7 linked regions of the Homo sapiens genome follow. The protein of the gene in region 1 purifies or fractionates together with the protein of each later gene. This does not show direct contact. Each region holds a gene or a part of one and is shown in the gene's direction. Other genes may lie near its edges.

Evidence for each region.
Region 2: the proteins of FERMT2 (region 1) and BBS12 purify together in Homo sapiens (affinity purification with mass spectrometry; one large-scale study listed by BioGRID and IntAct). This does not show direct contact.
Region 3: the proteins of FERMT2 (region 1) and ISOC1 fractionate together in Homo sapiens (co-fractionation; one large-scale study listed by BioGRID). This does not show direct contact.
Region 4: the proteins of FERMT2 (region 1) and SERGEF fractionate together in Homo sapiens (co-fractionation; one large-scale study listed by BioGRID). This does not show direct contact.
Region 5: the proteins of FERMT2 (region 1) and NAA50 fractionate together in Homo sapiens (co-fractionation; one large-scale study listed by BioGRID). This does not show direct contact.
Region 6: the proteins of FERMT2 (region 1) and PDCD10 fractionate together in Homo sapiens (co-fractionation; one large-scale study listed by BioGRID). This does not show direct contact.
Region 7: the proteins of FERMT2 (region 1) and UBFD1 fractionate together in Homo sapiens (co-fractionation; one large-scale study listed by BioGRID). This does not show direct contact.

Annotation. Positions count from the first base shown.
Region 1 is NC_000014.9:52,944,551-52,948,050, reverse strand, and holds part of FERMT2 (fermitin family homolog 2), read left to right. Parts: intron 1-3,500. UniProt on the Homo sapiens protein: Scaffolding protein that enhances integrin activation mediated by TLN1 and/or TLN2, but activates integrins only weakly by itself. Binds to membranes enriched in phosphoinositides.
Region 2 is NC_000004.12:122,742,704-122,745,439, forward strand, and holds the end of BBS12 (chaperonin-containing T-complex member BBS12), read left to right. Parts: coding exon 1-1,322; 3' UTR 1,323-2,236; downstream 2,237-2,736. UniProt on the Homo sapiens protein: Component of the chaperonin-containing T-complex (TRiC), a molecular chaperone complex that assists the folding of proteins upon ATP hydrolysis.
Region 3 is NC_000005.10:129,108,249-129,111,748, forward strand, and holds part of ISOC1 (isochorismatase domain-containing protein 1), read left to right. Parts: intron 1-3,500.
Region 4 is NC_000011.10:18,010,248-18,014,327, reverse strand, and holds the start of SERGEF (secretion-regulating guanine nucleotide exchange factor), read left to right. Parts: upstream 1-1,280; 5' UTR 1,281-1,317; coding exon 1,318-1,377; intron 1,378-4,080. UniProt on the Homo sapiens protein: Probable guanine nucleotide exchange factor (GEF), which may be involved in the secretion process.
Region 5 is NC_000003.12:113,725,750-113,729,249, reverse strand, and holds part of NAA50 (N-alpha-acetyltransferase 50), read left to right. Parts: intron 1-3,500. UniProt on the Homo sapiens protein: N-alpha-acetyltransferase that acetylates the N-terminus of proteins that retain their initiating methionine. Has a broad substrate specificity: able to acetylate the initiator methionine of most peptides, except for those with a proline in second position.
Region 6 is NC_000003.12:167,689,893-167,693,392, reverse strand, and holds part of PDCD10 (programmed cell death protein 10), read left to right. Parts: intron 1-3,500. UniProt on the Homo sapiens protein: Promotes cell proliferation. Modulates apoptotic pathways. Increases mitogen-activated protein kinase activity and STK26 activity. Important for cell migration, and for normal structure and assembly of the Golgi complex.
Region 7 is NC_000016.10:23,560,727-23,564,226, forward strand, and holds part of UBFD1 (ubiquitin domain-containing protein UBFD1), read left to right. Parts: intron 1-1,479; coding exon 1,480-1,545; intron 1,546-1,898; coding exon 1,899-2,004; intron 2,005-3,312; coding exon of another isoform or gene 3,313-3,383; intron 3,384-3,500. UniProt on the Homo sapiens protein: May play a role as NF-kappa-B regulator.

The DNA of each region.
Region 1 (3,500 bases):
CTTGAAGCAGTTATGAACAGAAGACACCAGAGCATTCACTTACATTTTCAAACTCCAGACTGTCTGATATCCTTCTTAATCTGTTGGACGGTATATGAATACCAAAAGCATTATATTTTAAGGTGATTTTCCCAGATAATGTTCAGTAGCAGCAATTATTTCCCTGAAGTCGATAGATCTCAGGATGACCTATTCCCTCAACATTGTATTAAAATTGTGTGTGTGCACATGTGGAAGTTTCTAGGAAGAGGCTTCTTCACTTTAATTTCTCAAAGAGGTCTGTAACAAAAGAAGTCATGACACAATTTTATGGTTTGGCCCTTGTGTGTCAGGTTCATCTTGAAGCTAGGGTTCATCCCAGAGTGCGGCATTTTAATTAAGCACGACATAAGTGTAAATAATGTTTCCTTAATATGTGTCAGTAATATCTTTGTGTTTAGTTAGACTTTTATTATAAATAACGTGTACACTTTGCTTAAGGCCATTAAAACACAATTTTTAGAATTTTGACTTTAATTCAAAGATCTGAAAAGTCTCATTTATTTATTTATTTATTTATTTTTTACTTTTTGAGACGGGAGTCTCACTCTGTCGCCCAGACTGGAGTGCAGTAGCGCGATCCCGGCTCACTGCAAGCTCCGCCTCCTGGGTTCACGCCATTCTCCTGCCTCAGCCTCCCGAGTAGCTGGGACTACAGACACCCGCCACCATGCCTGGCTAATTATTTGTGTTTTTAGTAGAGACGGGGTTTCACCGTGTTAACCGGGATGGTCTTGATCTCCTAACCTCGTCATCCGCCTGCCTTGGCCTCCCAAAGTGTTGAGATTGCAGACGTGAGCCACCACGCCCATCCTAGGTCTCTTTTAAATCTCAGTATAAAACACATTTGTCATTTGCTATTAATCTTTTAAAAGAAAGCAAAAGCATATGTCATGAAGTGGGCTTTGGGGAATTATATCGTAATGTGACAAAGTTTTTGCATTTGTGACTTAGTCTAGGCTGATACTTCATAAATAATTGATCCCCTCAGTGTTTATACTTCATCCAGAAAGTGAAAAACACCCTAAAATCCAGTTTAGGTTGGGTACGGTGGCTCACATCTGTAATCCCAGCAGGCAGGGAGGCTGAGGCAGGTGGATCACCTGAGGTCAGGACTTCGAGACCAGCCTGACCAACATGGAGAAACCCCATCTCTACTAAAAATACAAAAATTAGCTGGATGTGGTGGCATGTGCCTGGAATCTCAGCTGCTTGGGAGGCTGAGGCAGGAGAATCACTTGAACCTGGGAGGCGGAGGTTGCAGTGAGCCAAAATCACACCACCCAGCCTAAGCGACAGAGCAAGACTCCGCCTCAAAAAAAAAAAGAATTGTGAAAATTTAGTACTGTTTGGTTTGGTTTGAGGCAAGGTCTTGCACTGTCACCCAGGCTGGAGTGAGTGTGTGTTCATGGCTCTTTGCATCCTCAAACTTCTGGGCTCAAGTAATCCTCTTGCCTTAGCTTCCTGAGTAGCTGGAACTACAGGCACGCACCACCACATCTTGCTGACTTTTAAAATTTTTCGTAGAGATGGGTCTTGCTTTGTTGCCCAGGCTGGTCTTGAACTCCTGGCCTCAAGCAGTCCTTCCACCTTGGCCTCCCAAAGTGTTGGGATTACAGATGTGAGCTGCCATGCCTGTTTTTTTTTTTTTAATCAAAGACAAATTTCAAACGTGTATAGTGTTTTTTAAAAGAAAAATTTTAAATATGAAATATCAGGGATAAGGATTATAAAAACAAGACATCAAAATAAAATTGTCTTCAAAAATAAATTTTGTCAAGAAGAGGCCCAATTTTATGGGATTCCTCTGGAGGTCATTGAGAAGTATTAAATCCTTGGCTGGGCACGGTGGCTCATGCCTCTAATCCCAGCACTTTGGGAGGCCAAGGCGGGCAGATCAGAAGGTTAGGAGCTCGAGACCAGCCTGGCCAATATGGTGAAACCCCGCCTCTACTAAAAATGCAAAAATTAGCCGGGTATGGTGATGGGCACCTGTAGTCCCAGCTACTCGGGAGGCTGAGACAGGAGAATCGCTCGAACCCAGGAGGCGGAGGTTGCAATGAGCCGAGATAGTGCCACTGCACTCCAGCCTGGCAGACGCTAAATACCAAGTGGATCTGTTCACTGAGTTTTAGTATCACTTTTTAAAATGTCTTTTTAAAACTTATGTGTACAATTAAATTTCCACCTTTCTATAAAAATTCATTTTAAACGGAGAATAAGGAATTTATTATAATCTGGAGCTCACTGAATGGAAATCTCCAGCCAGCTCTGTGAGCAGAGAGGAAAAAATAGGTGATCTCTAAGTTTCCTCTAGCTCTGATTCTATGAGTAGAGAGAATGTAGAAGTTGGGTTAGATCAAGTCACACAATCTACAAGGGAAAAAAATGCAAATTGGAAGACTCAGGAGTAACTAAAAAGAAACATATGAAGTTGCTTTAGAAAGATTGAGGATTAGGCCGGGAGTGGTGGCTCACGCCTGTAATACTAGCACCTTGGGAGTCTGAGGCAGGTGGATCACCTGAGGTCAGGAGTTCTAGACCAGCCTGGCCAACATGGTGAAATCCCCGTCTCTACCAAAATTACAAAAAAAAAATTAGCCAGGCATGGTAGCGGGCGCCTGTAATCCCAGCTACTCAGGCTGAGCCAGGAGAATCGCTTGAACCTGGGAGGCGGATGTTGCAATGAGCTGAGATCACACCACTGCACTCCAGCCTGGGTGATGAGCGAGATTCCGTCCCCCCGCCCCCAACCCACAAAAAAAAAACAACAACAAAAAAACATAGAACAATTGAGGATTGGCTGGGTGCGGTAACTTACGCCTGTAATCCTAGCACTTTGGGAGGCCGAGGCTCAGAAGTTGTTTGCTTGAGCTAGGAGTTTGAGACCAGCCGGGCAACATGGTGAAATCCCGTTTCTACAGAAAAACAGAAAATACAAAAATTAGCCAGGCGTGATGGCACGCACCTGTAGTCCCAGCTACTCGGGAGGCTGAGACAGGAGGATTGCCTGAAGCTGGGAGTTTGCAGCTGCAGTGAGCTGTGATTACACCCCAGCACTCCATTCCTGGGCAACAGAGCAAGACTCTGTCTCCAAAAAAAAAAGAAAAAGAAAATCTGAGGATTATATTTCTGAACGTGGCCTTTAGAAAGAAGTCCTTGCTTTAAAAGTGTGTCATGTTCTTGCCATATAATAATGAAAAAAGTTCATTTATGTTGGAGTTGCATGTTAGGATCAAGTTAGATTGTGAACTTAGCACATGTGACCAAAAAAAGAAATAGATTTTAATAAAGTTACCACTAAAAATCCCTTAACGTGATCATTAAGTATGGTATACGTTCATTGCATCTCACAGAAGTGGAAAATAGCTAGTTTTTCCTCTAGGAACTCCAAAAATAAGTTTCATTAATTGAGCACCAGATGAAGAAACTGGCTTACATGAGGGGCTTCGTTACACAAA
Region 2 (2,736 bases), on another chromosome or scaffold:
TGGCAGTAGGCTTGAGTCATGGAGATCACAGCAGCATGAAGTTAGTAGAAGAAGCAGTACAGCTGCAATATCAGAATGCTTGTGTGCAACAAGGCAACTGTACAAAACCATTTATGTTTGACATTTCAAGAATTTTCACTTGCTGTCTACCAGGCTTACCTGAAACTTCTTCTTGTGTTTGTCCAGGATATATCACTGTTGTGTCAGTATCTAATAATCCTGTGATCAAGGAATTGCAGAATCAGCCTGTGCGAATAGTTCTCATTGAGGGTGACCTCACAGAGAATTACCGCCACCTGGGATTTAATAAGTCTGCAAATATTAAAACAGTATTAGATAGCATGCGGCTTCAAGAAGACAGCTCAGAAGAACTGTGGGCAAATCACGTGTTACAGGTGTTAATCCAGTTCAAGGTGAACCTTGTCCTGGTACAAGGAAATGTGTCCGAACGCTTAATTGAAAAATGTATAAACAGTAAGCGGTTGGTAATCGGCTCAGTGAATGGCAGTGTGATGCAGGCTTTTGCAGAGGCTGCAGGAGCAGTACAGGTGGCCTACATTACACAAGTGAATGAAGATTGTGTGGGCGACGGGGTCTGCGTGACCTTCTGGAGAAGCAGCCCTTTGGATGTTGTAGATAGGAACAACAGAATCGCAATCTTATTAAAAACAGAAGGAATTAATTTGGTTACGGCCGTGCTCACTAACCCAGTTACTGCACAGATGCAAATCAAAGAAGATAGGTTCTGGACATGTGCCTATCGTTTGTATTATGCTCTAAAAGAGGAAAAGGTCTTCCTTGGAGGTGGTGCAGTTGAATTTTTGTGTCTTAGCTGTCTTCATATTCTTGCAGAGCAATCTCTGAAAAAAGAAAACCATGCCTGCTCAGGGTGGCTGCATAATACTTCCTCTTGGCTGGCTTCATCTCTGGCAATATACAGACCAACTGTGCTTAAATTCCTGGCAAATGGATGGCAGAAATACCTTTCAACTCTCCTATATAACACTGCCAATTACTCATCAGAATTTGAAGCCAGCACATACATTCAACATCATCTGCAAAATGCCACAGACTCTGGCTCTCCTTCATCTTACATCTTGAATGAATATAGTAAACTAAATAGTAGAATTTTTAATTCAGACATTTCAAATAAACTGGAGCAGATTCCGAGAGTTTATGACGTTGTTACACCAAAGATTGAGGCGTGGCGCCGAGCATTGGATTTAGTATTGTTAGTACTTCAGACAGACAGTGAAATAATTACTGGACATGGACACACACAGATAAATTCACAGGAATTAACGGGCTTTCTATTTTTGTAGTGTTACTGGCTAAGTCTTTGGAAAATAATTTTTCATAATATGTCATGCTAATAATAAATATATTGATAGCCAAGTCATGGTGCCTAAAATGCCAGCTATTGCCAAGAAGAAAATAGTTGATGTCTGTCAATAACTGTGCATGGTCTGAGATTTTACCCTACTTATAAGCTAACAAGTTAGCCTGTTACTGTTTCGTGGGATGCTACAGAATGCATAAGACACCTGGGTCAGAAACAAAGGACTTATCGCTCACAGCAAAAGCTGTAGCCAGAGCTTCATGTTGGTTTTATTCAGTTCCTCATTTTTCTAGTTCCCACAGGAGGAACACAAAGGGCCCATGATGAAAGCCTGCACACAGTGGGTTATGTTGTAAGCTTGGGTTATTAACTGCTTTTATAGTAAGCAAAAAAATCCTGGTCTTTGTCCAAAGGGAGTTATTACCCCATACTTGAAGATAGCTTAGTGTAAACACAAGCCTAGGACATGGACTAGGTAAAGACAAAGTCCTTGCATTCTTGACATACCCAGTAAGTATGCAGGGACACTCAGAGCCCATAGTGGATAGTCTCTTCCAACAGTCTGCTCCTCAGCCTGAGATGTTCTTGGCCAAACTTGAATTTTCACATGAGTATGCCACTCTATCAGCTACTCTGATTAACCTGACAGTCGGGTTGTTTAGTCAGTACCAAATTTGTTCATTTGGTCTCATATAGCAATTAATGCAGGCTATTATCAGACACAGCAGCAGGATGAAGCCAACCTGCAGTATTAACCTCAGTCCTGTCCCCCAAGGTCTTGACTCAATCAACTCTAAGTTCCAAGGGAGGACCAATAGGTCTTTTTATTAGGCAGCCAGAATGTAGTGAAGGACAATTTATTATACTTTATGACCCAATAAAGGGAGCTTTGACTGACGTACTGATATGTGGTGTTATTATCAATAATTATGGGTGCAATAGCTGGGCCAAAAAACAAACCTGTTCCCTATGGAGAGCCCTTCTATGGCTTATTTTCCCCACATACAAGTACATAAGCCCAAAGGGTCCAGGTTACTCTAGTTCAGAAGTATTGTCAAATCTGATTTAAATCATCATATGTGGATTTCAGTCACATAAGTAGTGTCACTGAGTAGTTGCAGCCTCGGTTGCTATACATGGTATAATCCAAGGCCACTCTGACAAATTTAGAGAAGCATAAGTTCAATCAGAATGAAACAAGGTTGTGCTGGTCCCTGTGTTTCTACATGTTCACATATGGGAGCCACCCATGATGGCATCATGTACTGCCTCCTATACTGGTAGAGTCTTAGTAAGGTGTTGAGCCTCCTTTTTGCTGGTGAGGCCAAAGAGACAGCATTTATTTGTTTCATTGCCAAAGGAATTGAGTGCTGTAAATCTCTCCAGTCTCAAAAAAC
Region 3 (3,500 bases), on another chromosome or scaffold:
ATCAGAGGAAAGAAGGGATGAGTACAGGGCCACAGGGTGGTGGGAAGCAGGCAGGTAGCTGGCCACAGCAGGTGTTTTAGGGTCCTTATTGGCTCTCCCTTCTCTGTTATTGCTGAAGCAGAATCCTATACTGAGATTACAAATAGAAATTATTTATTTTGTTTAGCTATTTTCAAGTCCATTAGGCTATTAGATTATCTGGTAGTTAGGTACTAAGTATTGCTGCTTCTTCCAATCTCAACAAAGACCTTTAATCCATTTCTTTTTTTTTTTTTTGAGAGATGGAGTCTTGCTTTGTCGCCCAGGCTGGAAGTGCAGTGGCACAATCTTGGCTCATCTGCAACCTCCACTTCCTGGGTTCAAGCAGTTCTCCCTGTCTCAGCCTCCCGAGTAGCTGGGATTGTAGGTGCCTGCCACTGCACCCGGCTAATTTTTGTATTTTTAGTAGAGATGGGGTTTTGCCATGTTGGCCAGGCTGGTCTCGAACTCCTGACCTCAGGTGATTTACTTGCCTCGGCCTCCCAAGGTGCTGGGATTACAGGTGTGAACCACTGTGCCCGGTCAGACCTTTAATCTATTCTTATAGTCATGAGTTAATCAATTCCTACTTTTCAGGTTTTCCTGGTAACCTGAGTTTAAATACTTCATTGTCAGGTCCTCACCACCTCAGCCAGCAGCTCTTTCAGCCACTGTGGATAAACCTTTATTGTAATGCTGAGGTCCAGAACTTTGGAAATAAAAAATGAAAAACACAAAACAAACTTCCTTGCTTGTAAAAAAGGACTTTTTTCAAGGACTTTTCTCCTACATTCATATTTTCTTAGATATGTCTTTGTTATGGCAACTTAATGACAAAATTTTGATTGGCAATTCTGTCTTTGCACAAGACTCAAGATTAAAAACAATTCCCATCTGAACCATTCTTTTTAGAGGCAATCTGTAATCTCTCGGATTAGGAATCCACACAATGTGGGGATAATGTGGGTTTGAAGGCAGGTTCTGGTGTTTTGTAAATTTGTGACTTTGAGCAAGTTGTGTAATCTCTATGCCTCAGATTTCTCATTGGTGAAATGGAAATGATAATAGCAACAAGATCATAGGATTTTTGTGAGAATGGAATGAGATAATATATTGATAGCAGTTAGGACAGTGCATGACATAGTAAATACTCAGATGTTAGCTGCTGCTTTTTTTGTTGTTACTGATTGTTGTCTTCACGTGGTTAGTCACCAGAAATGTGTAAGTATATAACCTCTAAGACCCAGAAGGGACTAGTTCTTGGAAGTTCTGAGAAGGGAGGGAAAGAATCTGTTGTCTGGGGTGGATTTGGAAGGGCCTGGAGCACCAACATTGCCTGGGGTTAAAGTGTTGAGGTTGAAAGGGAAAACCGATCATAGATAAGTCAGGTGGTGATTGATAGGGAACACCTGCCATATTGCAGATTTTTTTCCTTTTAGTCTTGATTTGATACGGAGGCGATATACCTTGTTCCTAAATTTGAGGAAGGGGGCAATGTTAAGTGTTCTGGTTTGTTTCCATAAGTGTGAAAGTTAAAATACCATTGTGGTCCTCTCCCCTTCCTCTCTATTCCTGTAGAACATAACTACTGAAGATAATTCCCAAGACTAGCTATATTGCCTGTTAAGATTATTTTAAGATTCATAGTTTGCATTATTGAAACTTCACTGTACCAGGGTCTGTGGCATGTGCTTTATTCAAGAAATGTTTTCTGGGTATTTGTCATCTGAAAGACATTACTCCTTTCAATTAACAATTGTAGAGTGCATGAAGAATAAGAGAATAAAATCCTCTCTTGACCTTGATGTCCTTGTACTTCCGGGGAGTTTTAGTGTTGCTTGGAAATCTAATGGGTTTAGTCTTTTTCCCCCCTCTCTGAGGCTTTCATGACTTAGTGCACATGCATTTTTTAGGTTTGTGGGTCAGAGCAATCCTTCTTTTCCTTTGGCCTAGTTGGATTAGTTTTGCAAGTGTAAGGGGAGAACTTCAGAAGTCTAATGCACATGTACCTGTGTGCATTAAATGGCTGGAGTTTTAACTGCCCCTTTTTAAGCCAGGAGAGAAAGTGGACTTGGGACCAGCATTGTCAGGATGGTGGGCAGGGACTTGCTAGGTATGTCTGGAAAGCTCCTGCTGTTCTTTCTCTGCTCAGGCACGTTCTTTGGTTGGGAAAGGGCAGGCATTGTGGGAATGGCTAAGAGCCAGATTGAAAACCATTGCATTTGCTAAGCTACACCTTTCCCTAACACAGGTTCCTGGCTAGATGATTTTAAAACCCAGTCAGTGTTGGCCACATTTCAATCTTGAAGCAAAGTGATAGTGTATGGGTGTCACTTTCCTAAAATGTATTTCTGTGATGTACACTTCCCACTCTGCCCCTGCTATGGCCACCTGAGTCTCAGCATCACTGAGGCTTGTTAGGCTCAGGTCAGTAGAGCACTAGGGAGTGCTGGGCATTGTAGACAGGCTTCTTGTAGCGTCACCAGATTCCTTCCTTAGACCTGGGAACAGATTTATCTTTCCTGTCTCACTAAGGAACTGGGGAGATTATCGAGAACTAACCTTTATTGGCACATTGGAGTATACAGTGTAAAGCACTCTCACAGACATTGAAAGCCTGTGATTTAGTCCTTGATTCAGACTGAATCATTGCAAGTCCATTGATTCAACAGTGAGCAGTAAGGAAGGCAGGGCTGAGCAGGGCAGGCAGCTGGTGATGGGGAGAGCTGGACATGAATGACTTGACATTCAGTGCTGTTTTCACACAACTGGACTGCAGCTTATCATATTTATTATCTGCCTTTCTGTCTGAAGCAAGCACACGATCTTTTCATATTTTTGAATGGTTTTGATATGATTAATCAGCTGACTATAAAGCAAGGAGGAGGAAATTAGGGCTTCCAGAAGTCTTAAAAAAATACTCAGAGATAACTCACCCCTGGTGTGTGTCTGAGCTTATGGCCTTACTCCAGGCCCCCAACCCCCCCATAAATAGCTGCTGTTTTTGTTTTGTTTTATTTTGTTTTTTTTAAAAAATTGCTGCAAAGTTCTGGTTAGCTGCTCTGCACCCTTTTCTGTACTGGTCATTAAGGTCCAAGCTTGCTTTCTGACAAGTAGGTTATGGCTTATACTCCCTTATACTTCATTACGGATAAAAATAAAGAGTCTGCCAGTGGAAAGGTTCAGTCTGCTGATGTACAGCCATTGAAGGAAGACTGACTTACACTCTGCAAGGATATTTTGGCTATGCAAGGGCTTCCTGGGTTTTTGCCTCTGACTTACCTAGGAATTGTTTCCAACCACTTCCTCTTTCATGCTTTTTACATATATGCTTTTTGTGATAACAGTTTGTGTCTTTTTTTTCCCTGGGATTTCTGATAACACATAAATCCAGAGAATGAATCTGTGCTATAGAATTCTTCTATTTTCCTCCTTTCCTCTCTCTACCCTTTACCCCCGACTTTCTGTTCTTTGCTCTCTTC
Region 4 (4,080 bases), on another chromosome or scaffold:
TGTTGCTCAGCCAAAACTGAGCGGTGAAGGATCCCATTTTTACATCCTGTTACACATGCTTCAAAGAAATGGTCAGCACAAAAAAGCCCACTCATAAGACAGTCAGTAAGCATGGTATAGCTCCTGCACATTCAGATCCCTAGAGAATGAAGAGCTGTTTTATCTCTCCAAAGTTTGCTTTTTTCTTGGTATGGTCATCGACGTTCTCCAGATGCCACAGGTTGGAGAGATAAAGGTGAGGGGCTGCCCTCAAGTGGTCTTACAGGCAGAAACTCCTAAAAGTGGATGGAGTGAAAGAACAGGAAAGGACAGTGTAAGAGCTCATTGGAGACACTTCCCAGAAGCCCAGGGGTGAAGGGCAGTGAGTGCTGGAGGCCCGTGTCAGCAGAGGGGCCAAGTGCTACCGAATGTGAATGTGGATGATCATCTTTAATGTGACCCTATGTGTTCTGTATTCCCGGTACGCGGTGCCATATTTTCCTTCAGATAAATTGAACTTAATTAACTCCCATCAGCAACACGACGCTGTCTGAGAAAAGCCATTTTATATGGAAATGTTCGTTGGGTGACGATTATCCAGTATTATTAATAGAATGAGCTCAGGGCCGTGCCCGGAGCGCCGAGGCTGCCCCGGCAGGAGTCGACGCTAACCAGCCTCCCCCATTCAGCGTCGCGAGGCGCGGGTTCCCGCTCCGTGCCAGGTGCAGAGGGCGACACCGGCGACGTGCCACTCCACTCGCCTCCCAAGGCGCCCCCTCAGATGTTTGCGAACGCACACCAAAGCGGGCTCAAGACAATTGCGCCTGAGACGCCGGGCAGGACCCTGCCCTACCCCTCAGGCTCCATTTCCTGTTCCCGCAAATGGTGATGCCATCGCTGCCCTGTCAGCCCCTCTGGGCTGTCGTGGGCCTCCAAGGAGACAAAAACGCGAAGGAGCTTTGTGAACTGTGGCGCGCAGTGCACCTGCATGAAACATGAAATTATGACTAAAAATAAAGAGTACGAGGGGGTAGGAGCGAGAGGCTGAGAGGCCCAGCGAGACAGGAGGCTGCGGGCGGAGACGCTGCGAGCGCCGCCGGGGCGGGCTGACTGGGAGGCGGCTCCGGGGCTGTCGTCCGGCCCCGCCCACCACTGATCCCCAGTGGCCCGAGGGCCCGGCCGCACCCTCTCTCCCGGCCTGCGGGCCGCTTCCCACCACAGACCCCGCCCCGCGCCCTACCCATCACGCGTCCCCGGTCCGGCTCCGGCGCTCACCTACCCCCGGCAGGCGCCGCCCCCGTGCCGTCCCTCCCGGAAGCGCCGGCGGAGCGTCCTCGCATGGAGCGCGAGCCCAGCGCCTCGGAGGCCGCCCCCGCGGCGGCCGCGCTCTTCGCCTGGGTACGTGACTCCGCCCCCGGGCCGGTGCAGGCCCTGAGGGGCGCCGAGATGTGGGAGCTGCTGGCCGCGGCGTGGGCAGTTCAGGGGCTGGGCGGCTGAGGTCCGAGCCGGGCTCTGGGTTGAAGGATCCTGGGCTGGGAGCGGAGGGGGAGCGGAGGAGGAGCGGGCGGGCGGGGAAGGAAGGGTCTTCGCGGTCGACTTAGGGGCCTGCCGGCTGGCGGGGTCAGGGCCGGAGGGGCTGTGGCGCCGCGGGAAGAACCTGCCTCGGGGCAGAGCGTCTGGTTCCGCGAGAGCCCTCCAGCCCGAATAGCGCCTGGAAGACAGCGCGGAGGGCTCGGTGGAGAGGATCGCCCGGTCCCAGAGCTCCGTGGGGCCACCTGTGCCCCCCACACTCCTGATGCCTGGAGGAGGGAGACCCTGTCCCAGCCTGGCGAAAGCATCCTTTAGATGTGAGGCCTGCGGTGTTTGGCCGCGCACAAGGCACAGACCCTGCCTATTTGCTGACACTCTGCTGTGACCGGTTCTTGCATGTGTTGGGGGAGTTGGGCTGCTGTTGGTTTGACGGGAGCATTGGGAGAGACAGGGTCATCTTGATGTGTGTCTGGGAGAGAGGAGGGTTCATGCACAGGAGCGTGGCAGGTGGCCGACCAGCATGCACGGGAACAAGCAGTCGCTGCGTCTTGTGCTTCTTCATAGCACGTATCACAATTGTAATGATGTGTATAATTTATTATTAACGTCAGTCTCTCTGGCTGGAAAGTAAGTGTGGTAAGAGTGGGTGCTGTGCCTGTCTTGTTCACGGTGCCTCTCTTGGTGTCTGGCACATTGTAGGTCCCCAGTAAATACTCGTTGACGAATGAATGAACGAGCATCTGTGTGCCTACCCATGTGCTGGTGTTGGGGAAATACACATGAGTGAAATACACGAGTGAAGGACTTCCAGCTCTTGTGTTGGGGGAGAGCAAAATTATAACCTGTATTGCTGTTAAAATCAGTATTAGTTGTCCAATTTTTAAAGAAGTAATGATCAGTACAAGGCGGCAATTGTTGAATGTGGGGCTGCAATTTGGCAGGAGGGAGAGCATGGCGTGACCTGCGGTAGTCTGGCTGGCTGGGCGTCTTTGAGGTGGCCCGGGAGCTGGGGGTGGAGTTGGGGATTGAATGTGTGCTGTCTCTGGCTTTTTCCAGGCAGGAGACTGGCGTCTGTGTGGACAGAGGAAACAGAAATATTGTTTCAGTACAGACAAAGCCGAATATTAAAGGTTGTAAAATATGTTTAATAGGTTGTTGACACCCTTCTGCTGTGTTTGGAGGACTGGTAGTGTGTTTTTCCTGCTGTATAATCTGAAACTGTGGGGGTGTGTTGGTCGGCTAGGGCTACCATAACAAAATACCACACAACAGAGGCTTAAACAACAGAAATTTATTTTCTCACAGTTCCAGAGGCTAGAAGGCCAAGATCAAGGTGTGAGTAGGTTTGGTTTCTCCCGAGGCCTCTCTCTGGCTTGCAGATGGCCGCCTTCTCACTGTGTCCTCACATGGCTTTTTTCACTGTGTCCTCACATGGCCTTTTCTGTGTGCGTGAGCATCCGTGGTGTCTCTTCTTTTAAGGACACCAGTCATATTGGATTAGGGCCCCACCCTTATGACCTCATTTAACCTTAATTGCCCCTTTAAAGGCCTTCTTTCCAAATACAGTAAGGTACTAAAGGTTAGGGCTTCAACACGTGAATTTTGGGGGAATAAAGTTCGGTTCACAGGAAGGGGATTTACCTTGTTAGGGGTGTGTGTGTGTGTGTGTGTGTGTGTGTGTATGTGTGCATGTGCACGTGTGATATGTCTGGAGTGTTTGTGAGGAAGAAAGGCAAACAACAGTTGTAATAGGTTGTGTTAAATTTCCCTTCGTCTTGCTTTATCCTGGATTTAGGGCCTCTCACAGTGTTACAAAAATTGGTACCGTAATTTGAACCTCAGAGTGCCCATGTGTCATGTTACTTTTCTCCCAGGTGTTCAGCAGCCTTGCACCCCTGGTAATGGGACAGCCACGGAGATCTCAGGGCTGACCAAGAAATCCTGTGCATATATGCTCTATATTCCCCTTCATGCTGAGCAAGTCTTTCATAGGGTCTTACATTCATTCGCCATATAAATATATGTACATCTTCTTTGGGCCAGCACAGTTTCAGATGCAGGGGAAACAGCAGTGAGCAAAGCAGAGTTCCTGCCCTCCTGGAGTTTAGTTTCTGGCAGGGGTGGTGTACAGTAAACAAGTAGTCATATATAATGTAACATCAAGAAGTGGCATGAAGAAAAATAAAGCAGAAAATGAGTGATATGGGGATGCTCTTTTAGATAAAGTCATACAGTTAACCACCTGTCAGGTAAGCTCTGGGCTGCTTCACTGTATGTCCTTTTTTTATTTTTTCTAAGAGACACAGTAAGGTATAGTAAAAGGTGCAGGGCATCAGACTTTTTGCCTACCCAGATATAACTATGGAAAGTTACTTAACCTCTCTGAGCCTTAGTTTCTTCCTCTGTGAAATGGGAGTAATAATGTCCTTCTTAGTTGTTGTGAGGATTAAAGGTGAATGCACAGTATGGAGAGAAGCACTCAGTAATTGGTAGCTAATATTGCCCCCTGTGGGCTTCTGGGACTTATGCCCCTGCTATGGCTTACTCTTCCATCTTTGAGTCCTTGCAGCC
Region 5 (3,500 bases), on another chromosome or scaffold:
GGGAGGCCAGGGTGGGCGAGCCTATCACTTGAGGCCATAATTTCAAGACCAGCCTGGCCAACATGGTGAAACCCCATCTCTACTAAAAATACAAAAATTAGTTAGGAGTGGTGGCACATGCTTGTAATGACAGCTGTTTAGGAGGCTGAGGCAGGAGGATTGCTTGAACCCAGGATGCGGAGGTTGCAATAAGCTGAGATTGCACCGCTACACTCCAGCCTGAGCAACAGAGGGAGACTCCGTCTCAAAAAAAAAAAAAAAGAAAAGGAAAAAAGTGTATCAAGAGTAAGCCTTTTTGAGATACCATGTGAACAAAGACTTGGAGTTAACATATACTGCAGCCAAGGATGGAGAGGCCATCAATTGACAGGAAAAACTGCAAGCAAAGCAGATTTTGGAACAAAGATTTGAAATTGTTTGCAGTATGTTCACTTTGAAGTGTCTGCTGGAGATTGCTTGGATCTAGGAATGTAGAGTTCAGGAGTGAACTATAGGCTAGAGACAGAAATTTGGAAATTGGCAGCATTAAAGCCACACAACTACAAGATTGAATGAGATCACCAAGAGAATAATTATAGAGAAGATAACCAAATGCGTCCATATACGAGGCCGTCATAAAATTGGTTCTTTTTCAGCTTCCGCATTTATACACAAGCATACTTGATGTTTTAGCCATATCAAACTGACTGATTTTCGGACTACATCACTGCTGTTTTGTTCATGTTTTATTAGACTGCATCTCTTGCCCTTCCACAGGATAAGCTAGTCGTTCTTCAAAATGTTTCCCATTGTCACCTTCATTCTAGTATTATTTTTGTACTATATGTACATACACTGTTAGTAGCACATTGTATATACCTGTCTTTCCTACCAGATGTAAACACCTTTGCATTCCAGATGCATAACACATAGATACTCAAATATTTATTGAAATATAATTGATTTATGCTTTAGGCAACTCTATTATGTTCATAAGAACTTTAGAAAAATTTAGATTGACAGAATTTTTTAAATCTCCATTAGGTTAGTTTTTTAATAGAGAATTTGGACTTTTAACTTAATTTTTTATAGGTTATTCTAACTAAAACCTTTTTGGTTGTTTACATTCAAGTAATGTTATTTTCTTGACATGTCTACATATCCCTTATGCTTATGCCTTTTTTTTTTTTTAACTCCGTGTTCCTTGCTAACTTATATTTACAAGTTGATTATAGTACTTTGATATATTTAGAAAATCCATGTCTTAAAATAATTTGGAGCTAAGTGATCAGGATTACAGAAGTATTCCATTTCAGTCAGACATATCATGTTAATGAGAGTTAAACTATATTTGAAGCTCAGTTTTGCTGACAAGGTTACATTAAGTGAACATTTTGAAATTTTTCTAGCATATTTGTTTCTTGCAAAAATCAAATTAATTTCTCAAAAACAGCTTAATTTTTCCAACAGCTACCAAACAATACTTAAATCTCAAATTTGTTTAAAGCGTGTATATACATATATATAACGCGCATAGAAAAATATTGGAAGACTATCAGCAAACTTATTTCTGGCCATATTATTGCAGGATATTTTCCCTTTCTACGTCATTTCTATGGTGTGCTTTAAAAAAAAAAAAGGCATGTATTTTTTTAATTAGTTAGGGGAAGATTAAGCTGCCTATTTCCTAATGGTTCAATATTGTTTTCTCTATTTAGGCTTTATCTGGCCACCCTAATGGAAACTTTTTTTAGTAGTTAACTTTTATTAGACTCATTGTAGCACAGTGCACTATAACCACTTTTTCTTCTTGTATGAAGTCAAGAAATACCTGGTATTATTCTTTGAAAACTGTAAGTATGCTTGAAGCCTAGTTACTACCTACAAATGATTCCTAAAGTTTTAAAAACCTCAAGTTCTTTCATTTATACTTTAGAAGCTTGACTTTGTAGGTTCTTAAGTTACTATTATTGTTGATACTTCAACTTCATAATGTAATTTTAAATCACTTTTTAAATACTAAGACTTTTTTTTAAATGAGATGCTCTAAATTAATACAAACTGTATATAAAAAAATTACTACACCCAACTTGTGGCACTATGGTAAGTTAAACAGGAGACAGTGTAGGTAAGATGTGATCCCTGTCAGCTACTGCATTTTTAAAGGATCCTATATTTTGGCCAGGCACAGTGGCTCACGCCTGTAGGCCCAGCACTTTGGTAGGCCAAGGTGGGCGGATCACTTGAGCTCAGGAACTGTAGACCAGCCTGGGCAACATGGTGAAACCCTGTCTCTACAAAAAATTCAAAAATCAGCTGGGCGTGGTGGCATGTGCCTTCCTCAGCTACTCGTTAGGCTGAGGTGGGAAGATCACTTGAGCCTGAGAAGCGGAGGCTGCTGTGACCTGTAATTATGCCTGGGCAACAGAGCAACCCTGTCTCAAAAAAAGAAAAATAAAGGATTCTATAGTTTACAGGATAACAGTATCCACAGATTTTTCTTTCTTTCTTTCTTTTTTTTTTTTTTGAGGCGGAGTCTTGCTCTCTCGCCCAGGCTGGAGTACAGTGGTGCGATCTTGGCTCACTGCAACCTCTGCCTCCTGGGTTCCAGTGATTCTTCTGCCTCAGCCTCCCGGGTAGCTGTGACTACAGGCACGTGCCACCACACCGGGCTAATTTTTGTATTTTTAGTAGAGACAGAGTTTCACCATATTGGCCAGGCTGGTCTCAAACTCTTGACCTTATGATCTGCCCACCTTGGCCTCCCAATTTTTTTTTTTTTTTATGTGAATGGTAGATAGTGGGGAAAGTGAGCCCAGTAGATTTTAGTCAGAAAAGTGTTATGAAGAGGGGGAGTTCTGTGAATGAGATGTAATCTACTTAAAGAAAACATGAATTTCATACAGGGAATTCATTATAGTTGTCAAATACTTGGGATGAGAAAAGACTATACTTAAGTGACTAGAAGTTGGAAGAGACTATAACAAGAAAATGTCTATTTTTTTATTTTTACTTTTTTAAACTTCCTATGGTGCTGAGGGGTTTTTTAAATATATAAATCTCTTACCCTTTTACTAACATGTTTGTTTATTTAATCTGTGTGGTTGCTAAGAAACTATGTTCAGATTTTAGGAAGACATACAAGACATGAAAAGATCATTGGTTGCAACAAATAATACAGATTAGTGGTATAAAAAATAATCAAGGCAGGAAGGATAAAGTTCCAAATGAGCTAAGCCTTTCAAAACTGCTAAGTATGACAGAAACGATGCTTTATGCTGTCTTTTGTGTTCTTCATACAGACTACTTAAATAGGGGGTAAAAGTCTCTTGTTTTTGCCTCTAACTCCTTACCAAGTAGAATGTTCTCCAAACTGGGCATTATAGAGTAATACATCTTAGAGAACTTTGTACTATAAGATAAAATATTACATCATATTCCTCTCCAGATAAATCAAATTTAGAAATTTCTTTTTTTATCTGTAATTATTGCTGTTTTTTGTTTTGTTTTTGAGACAGTCT
Region 6 (3,500 bases), on another chromosome or scaffold:
TTTGCCTCAGTTGTAAGCTGGAAAGTCACTGGAATAACTTTAGAGAATAATAATGATACGTGGCTTTTTAGATTTTGCAGTACATATGTTCAGAATTATGTACAAGTTGAAATGTCTGTGTACTGATCCTCAACACAACTGATGAAATCTCAATTATGAAAGAAAAAGAAAACATTCATCTTTTGAAAATAGTATTCTTTGTCATTCACATTGAGAAATGCTATTTTAGCTTGTTTGGATACCTAGCTAGTTTGGATACTCTCTTTTGAGTCACATAAAGAGAGGAATATGTCCCATAGAAAATAATGGTTCGTGATAGGTATGCAACCCAGCTATCAAGGAATGACCCTACTCTTTGACAATAATTAAGGGCCAGGAATATAAAAAAGGCTTTTAATTGAATAGCCAAAATCTGTGTCACAAGGGACAAACACTAAGGGTTTTTTTGTTTGTTTTGTTTGTTTGTTTTGTTTTTGAGACGGAGTCTTGCTCTGTCGCCCAGGCTGGAGTGCAGTGGCGCCATCTCGGCTCACTGCAAACTCTGCCTCCCGGGTTCATGCCACTCTCCTTCCTCAGCCTCCAGCGTAGCTGGGACTACAGGCGCCCGCCACCATGCCTGGCTAATTTTTTGTATTTTTAGTAGAGATGGGGTTTCACTGTGTTAGCCAGGATGGTCTCGATCTCTTGACCTTGTGATCCGCCTGCCTTGGCCTCCCAAAGTGCTGGGATTACAGGTGTGAGCCAACACGCCTGGCCTAAGGGTTTTGTATTTTACCTTTCCTATGGGAAAGCCCCAGCTTCCTTTTCTACTTTTAATATGTGAAGGAGGAAGATAATCAACTGTTCATGGAGTTTTATTTTTAATCTGGTACAAGTTGAGCATCCCTAATTTGAATATCAAATTCTAAATGCTCCAAAATCCAAAACTTTTTGAGCACCGTGACATGACACCATAAGTGGAAAATTCCACGTCTGACCTCATGTGATGGATGGGTTGTAGTCAAAACACAATCAAAACTTTGTTGTATGCACAAAATGTATGCATATATGGATGCACTTTATGAAACATAAATGAATTTCATGTTTATACTTGGGCCTCATCCCCAGGTCTAAAGACTTCTGGTCTCAAGCATTTTGTTTAAGGGATACTCGCCCTGTATAGTTAAAGTAAACATGTTTGGCCTGTAAAAGGATAAATTGTCAGTGATCCCAAACTTAGTTGTTTAGACTATTTATTTCTAAAGTTTTGAAATAATTTGGTAAGTTTTCATTTGCTTTGATAATCGTGTACTTGTTGATGAGCCATGACACATTTCTATGAAGATTTGACATTTAAAATAATATTTGCAGCAGATTTTGCTTCAGATCATCGAAGTAGGTTTATATAATCAATGTCATCTTAATAACAATCATTTATATAGGACTTATTATATGCTAAGCACTATTTTAATCACTTTACATTTATTTACTTATCACAACAACCCAGTAACAAGTGAGGAAATTGAAGCAGGCACAGAAAATTAGGTAAGGCCACAGAACTTACCTATTAAGTGGTAGAGCTGGATTTGAACCCAGGCAATCTAATGCCAGGTGTTCACTGCTGTTTCCCAATCACAGACTTCCAATGTTGATGTAATCTGGAGATTGAAAAATAGAGTTTCTGCCATTTGAAAGAAATGTGAAAAAGGATATTTTAACATAGAATGCCAGTACGTGAGAGAGATAACAGTATTGTGGTTGAAACTGGCATAGAAATGTAGGCCCAGAGCTCTCATCCTGTCACTTTGACATCCTCTTTCCCCCTACAGAGTCCCTGAGACATCTCTGCTAAACCGTCTGTGACTCTAGGGAGCTGCGGTTTGAAAACCACATTATTAGCAGCACATTTTAGTCATAAGGAAATTGAGCTTAAGAGTCTTGTCTATAGTCATTGACAGAGGCTTTCTTTAGGGTGTTGTTTTCTTTATGAGGGAGTAATAATACTTCAGTTCTGTTTTCTAGAGTGTACTAATTTAGCACAATTGAATTAAGAGTAATGGTGGCAATGAAAATTTACTTCCTAACCATTTGAGGAGGGATAATTTGCCCTGGCAAGTTTGTTGATATGTATGTTATTTCTGAGACTAAAATTCAACCACATATGAATAGCATAGATAGGCTAAAGTATAATTATTTGTATCACTGTCATATATTGGTACATTTTCATGTATGTTCTTACCATTATTAATTGACAAATTAGTGGATAAAATTGCACTAAAATAGAAAATGATTTCTTCTTCAGGCGTTTCTCCAATATTTTACTTTCTTATATCTAAGGTAGTTATCCCCTTTATTCATTTTAGCAACATTTTTCAATAAGCATATGTCATATACATATTACACCAAGTACTATAGGTGATGCTATAGATTGTATCAAAGTACAAGTAAAAAAGAATCCTGACAGCTAATAAATATTCAGGCAATTTTGAATATATTAGCAGACCTAGATTTGAATCTGTGTTCCAACATTTAGCTATGTAACCTTGGATATAAGTTGCTTAACTTCTGTCATTTTAGTTTGTGCCTCTGAAAATGAGGGTAATGACTTGTGAGAATTGAAAGAAATGATGTACATGAAGTGCCTAGCACAGAACCTAGCATACATTCAACAGTACATGCTATAATAACATTGTGAAATGAGGATTTTCCTCCCTTTTCTCAATGGAGTTGATAAGGAAAAATGATCCAGCAAATATTTCAAAAGGCCTTTTGATCAATGAATGTGTGTGCCTGAGTACATTTGAGCTATGCAAATATGTTATAAAATTAATTTGTATTTTTTTTGAAGTCCAATACATCTCAACTAATGGAAAACTAGTGGAGACTCGTGATTTAACAGACCAAAATAAAAAAGCCAGGCATTTATTTACTGTTTGTAATCTGCATTTGCATATTCTTAGGCTAAAATTCAGCAAGGTTTATTTGTTTTAAGTTAGGAGTTTTCATGAAGGGTTCAGAATAGATTTTTTCAGAGTTTTCCAGTCTAAACCAAACTCAACATAAAGCACAGGGATTCCCTTTCATTAGTGCATTTGCATAAATGCGTATCATGCAAATTTGGGTGGCATGATTAGAAACTCTACTTTTCTATTGCAGTTTTTTGATAAGATGTATGTTTACGTTTCATCTGAAGCCTTTGCCTTTCAGTGTAATGTTTCGCAAAGCTGCGCTATTAGGTTGGTGCAAATTGCTAAGTTCCTTCTCCTTCTACTCATACTATCTGCCTCTTATCACAGAATTCATCTGCACCAAGCCGCATTCATTAGTTATGCGATATTTATTTTACCCTCAAGTTTTTTCTCAGTTCTTTATCTGGTTAATTGTCTATAGTGGTTTTTTTGTCCTGGTATTTTCTCTCGTAGGAAACAAACTCTCTGGTAGTTACTAATATAATTTAGCTTCTCTATGTGCACACCTTGGTGCCATAAATGAAAATACTTTTCTGTGTACATATGGATAAC
Region 7 (3,500 bases), on another chromosome or scaffold:
TATCTTTATAAAAATTCCAAAACCCTGAAAGTTCAAAACTCTAGGGTTTCAGATAAGGGGTTATAAACCTATATTAATTATCTAAAAGGTGTTGATTTGGAGACTTCACCCCCACATATGGGGTCTCAGTGTCTTGAAACCGATTGAGTTTCTTCTCATATTCCTGTTTTTCTTTGCCACATGTATGAAATAGTGAAATGTGAGCACGTCAGATAGGAGTGGTCGCAATGGTCACACCCTTGGAGCATAACATGCCTCCTAAATACAGGTTTTTAGTTACTAATGGTAGCTTAACAGGCTTAGAACTGTTCTCCACAGTACAGGAAATCTTGTTCAAAAGGTACTTGAAAGGTGTGACTCGAATTGTACTTCCAGCCCATGCTGCTGTGTTTCATTGAGGCCAATTATGATGCATCACATGACCTAATGAGAGGGATATAGTCCCTTGCCTTTTTACCAGCTTATTAAGGGGTCTGGGGGTGATGTCTGGAGTGACTTTTTGCTAGCAGTCTGGCAGTGCTGAGTTTATTCCTCCCAGAGGGATTCCACCATGCCAGTGAGGATTTGGGCTGGCTTGTGGCTGCCTAGTGCTTACATTTGATTAAATTGTTACCTTCTATCCATTCATTGTCCCCTAGTTCCAGCCTTCCAAGCAGTGGCTATGCCTATAAGGCCACAGATGGAGAAGAAAGAAGACTCAGGCATTTGGGCCAGGCAGGAGAACTGTTTAAGGGGCCCTGAACTTAGAATCCTTGAAGAGCTGCCTCAGAGTTCTTGGGGCAGGTGGTAGGGGTGGAGTTTAGAGGCTTCTTAATGTCAGGTTATAGAGTAATAAGCATTTCTTTCTGAAAGGTGGCTCTTCCAGGTTCCTGTTTAGCTGGAGTTAAGGGTAGGGCAGTGGGGAAAACTTCGGCGATGGGCTGGGTCTCCATTTGTTGAAGAACTGCTCCTCCTAGGCAGTTAGACGGATTACCAGCATCTTATAGTGTTCTCTGGAAGTTTAAGTTGAAAAAGGTGGGTGCCATTTTTTGTCTGCTAGGAGAGCAACACCCTTTGTCGCCCTCTTTAGTTTGATGGTTTAATCATTTCAGTGGTGATTTTTTTTTTTTTTTTTGAGGGGAGGAGGGCAATCTGGAAATCCCGTTTGCTGTAGAACTTTGATATCTAATATGGTAGCTATCCACATGTGGCTGGTTAAAATGAAATTAAGAATTCAGTTCCTCAGTCATAGTAGCTGCATTTCAAGTGTGTAATAGTCACAGCAGTAGGTAGTGGCTAGCACAGGTACGAACATATTCGCCCTCCCAGAAAGTTCTGCTGGACAGCACTGTGCTATAGTTTCAAAGGATCCATAGTCTGTCGTCATTAAAAGCTTTTGAGCCAAAACACTAAGGCTTTCTTCATCCTCTCTTTCAAGGGAATAGTAACACGACGAAATGTAGTCAGCTGTTTCATTTCATTCTCTCTTCTGACTTATAGCAACACAGGAAAGTGTTGGATAAAGGAAAACCTGAAGATGTGATGCCATCTGTTAAGGGGGCCCAGGTAAGGCGGATTTCTTTGTGAGCATTCTGAAAATGAGGCAGCCCCACCGTCTGACTTGAGGTTCCTCCAATCCTGTCCCTTCTCTTTTTTCCCTGTTTTTTTTTTTTTGAGACAGAGTCTTGCTCTGTCACCCAGGCTGGGGTGTGCCACCACACCTGGCTAATTTTTGTATTTTTAGTAGAGACGGGGTTTTACCATGTTGCCCAGGCTAGTCTCCAACTCCTGACCTCAGGTGATCTGACCGCTTTGGCCTCCCAGTGTGCTGGGATTACAGGCGTGAGCCACCGCGCTTGGCCCCCTTCTCTTTTTTTCTGACTGTCCCTCCATCTCTTACCATTCTCTCGTGCCTTCAGGAGCGCCTGCCAACGGTACCGCTGTCCGGCATGTACAATAAATCTGGAGGAAAAGTGAGACTCACCTTTAAACTAGAACAAGACCAGCTGTGGATTGGCACTAAAGGTATGTTCTTCCTCGCCTCCTTGCTGGCCCACTGCCTGCCTCTGGCACCCAGCAGCACTCACATTTTAGAGTGCGATTTCACCCCTCCTTCTGAAACCTCTCTCTCCACTGTGCTTTGCTTGCTTCTGGCTTTTAAATTTGCTTTTAGATGCTCGCCTTTTGTTTGGACCGTTTTCCCTCATTGTTTTCAGTCTGATCTTAGGGCTGATCCACCAAACAGTGGCTCTTCAGTTGCACACAGATTTGGGGGTCCCAAACACGTGGCCCAAGGGCCAAATCTGGTCCACAGAAAAATGTTTTGTGGGATGACACACAATCTGTAAAAATTGGGAGATTTCACTAATCTGATTTTTTTTTTTTTTTTGGCTTCTCTTGAAAACTCAAATGATCTGGCCCTTTGGGGCCTGCATTCTCACATGGCATCGATCCACTAGAGCCGAGTGGTGGTTTCCAGTGGGCCATACTACAGTCTTCATGGTCCCATTTATCTTAGAAGTAGCCAGCTTTGTTCATTTGTCACCTGCCTGGCCCCTGTAGGTCAGAGTTTGACCCTATAGTAGGTGAAGTTTTCCTAACCGCTGCCGAGGAATCTGCCTCTCCCTCCCCGCCTGGTTGCCCTCTGCCTGCCCCACCCCCGCCTGTGCACGGTGTCTGGATCAGCCTTGCTGTTTGCTGGGAAGTGTCTCTGACTGTCCTCCCTCTCCCTTCCCCCAGATGGTTACAAAGTCTTGTTAGTTACACTGCAGAACTGTCTGTCCCTTTCTTTGCCACACTGTTGTGCCAGTTAAAGTTCCCAAGCATCTTTAAACTTGGTCTGTTCAAAGCGAGTTACCCTGTTTCACTGCCCCATCTGTGTTTTCTTCTGTCCTGTCCATCTTACCTACTGCTTTTTATCCTGGGTACCCGTGCTCAAGGACCTTTGGCTGTTTAAGGACACATTCAAATGCCTAACCATAGCGTTCAGTGTTCTCAACACTGGGCCTTAGTTTAAATTTTGGTTCCAGCTTCTGGCCCGTTTGCCCTGTGGTCCCCTGTGTATTTTAGCCGCATCTCTCTGTGAAGCTCCCAGTGTGCTTTGCACAGCTCCTTGTCTTTGCTCATGCTGTGCCCTTACCTGGAATGCCTTTTTCCCATTCCTTGTTATTAATAAAATCTTCCAAGGCCCTACTTAAATGTCCTCTCTGAATGAAGCCTTCCTTGATTCTCCCCCCACCCTCCAAATGACTTGCTGCCGCTTCTGTTCATAGAGCGCTTCGTTTATATCCCCAGAGCACTCATTACTCTCTGACTTGTCTGTCCCCCTGTTAGATTCCTGGAGGGAACCGAACATGCCTAAATCACCTGTTTCTGACCAGCACTGTAGGTATTCAGTGTTCGAGGTAAATGCTAAAGAGAAGTATAGGGGGTCCCATCATCTGACGTTCACTGGTTTCAGGGACAGACCATTTAGTGAGACTCCACTTAAAATGGGACCAAGTTTTATGGAGAATAATTGG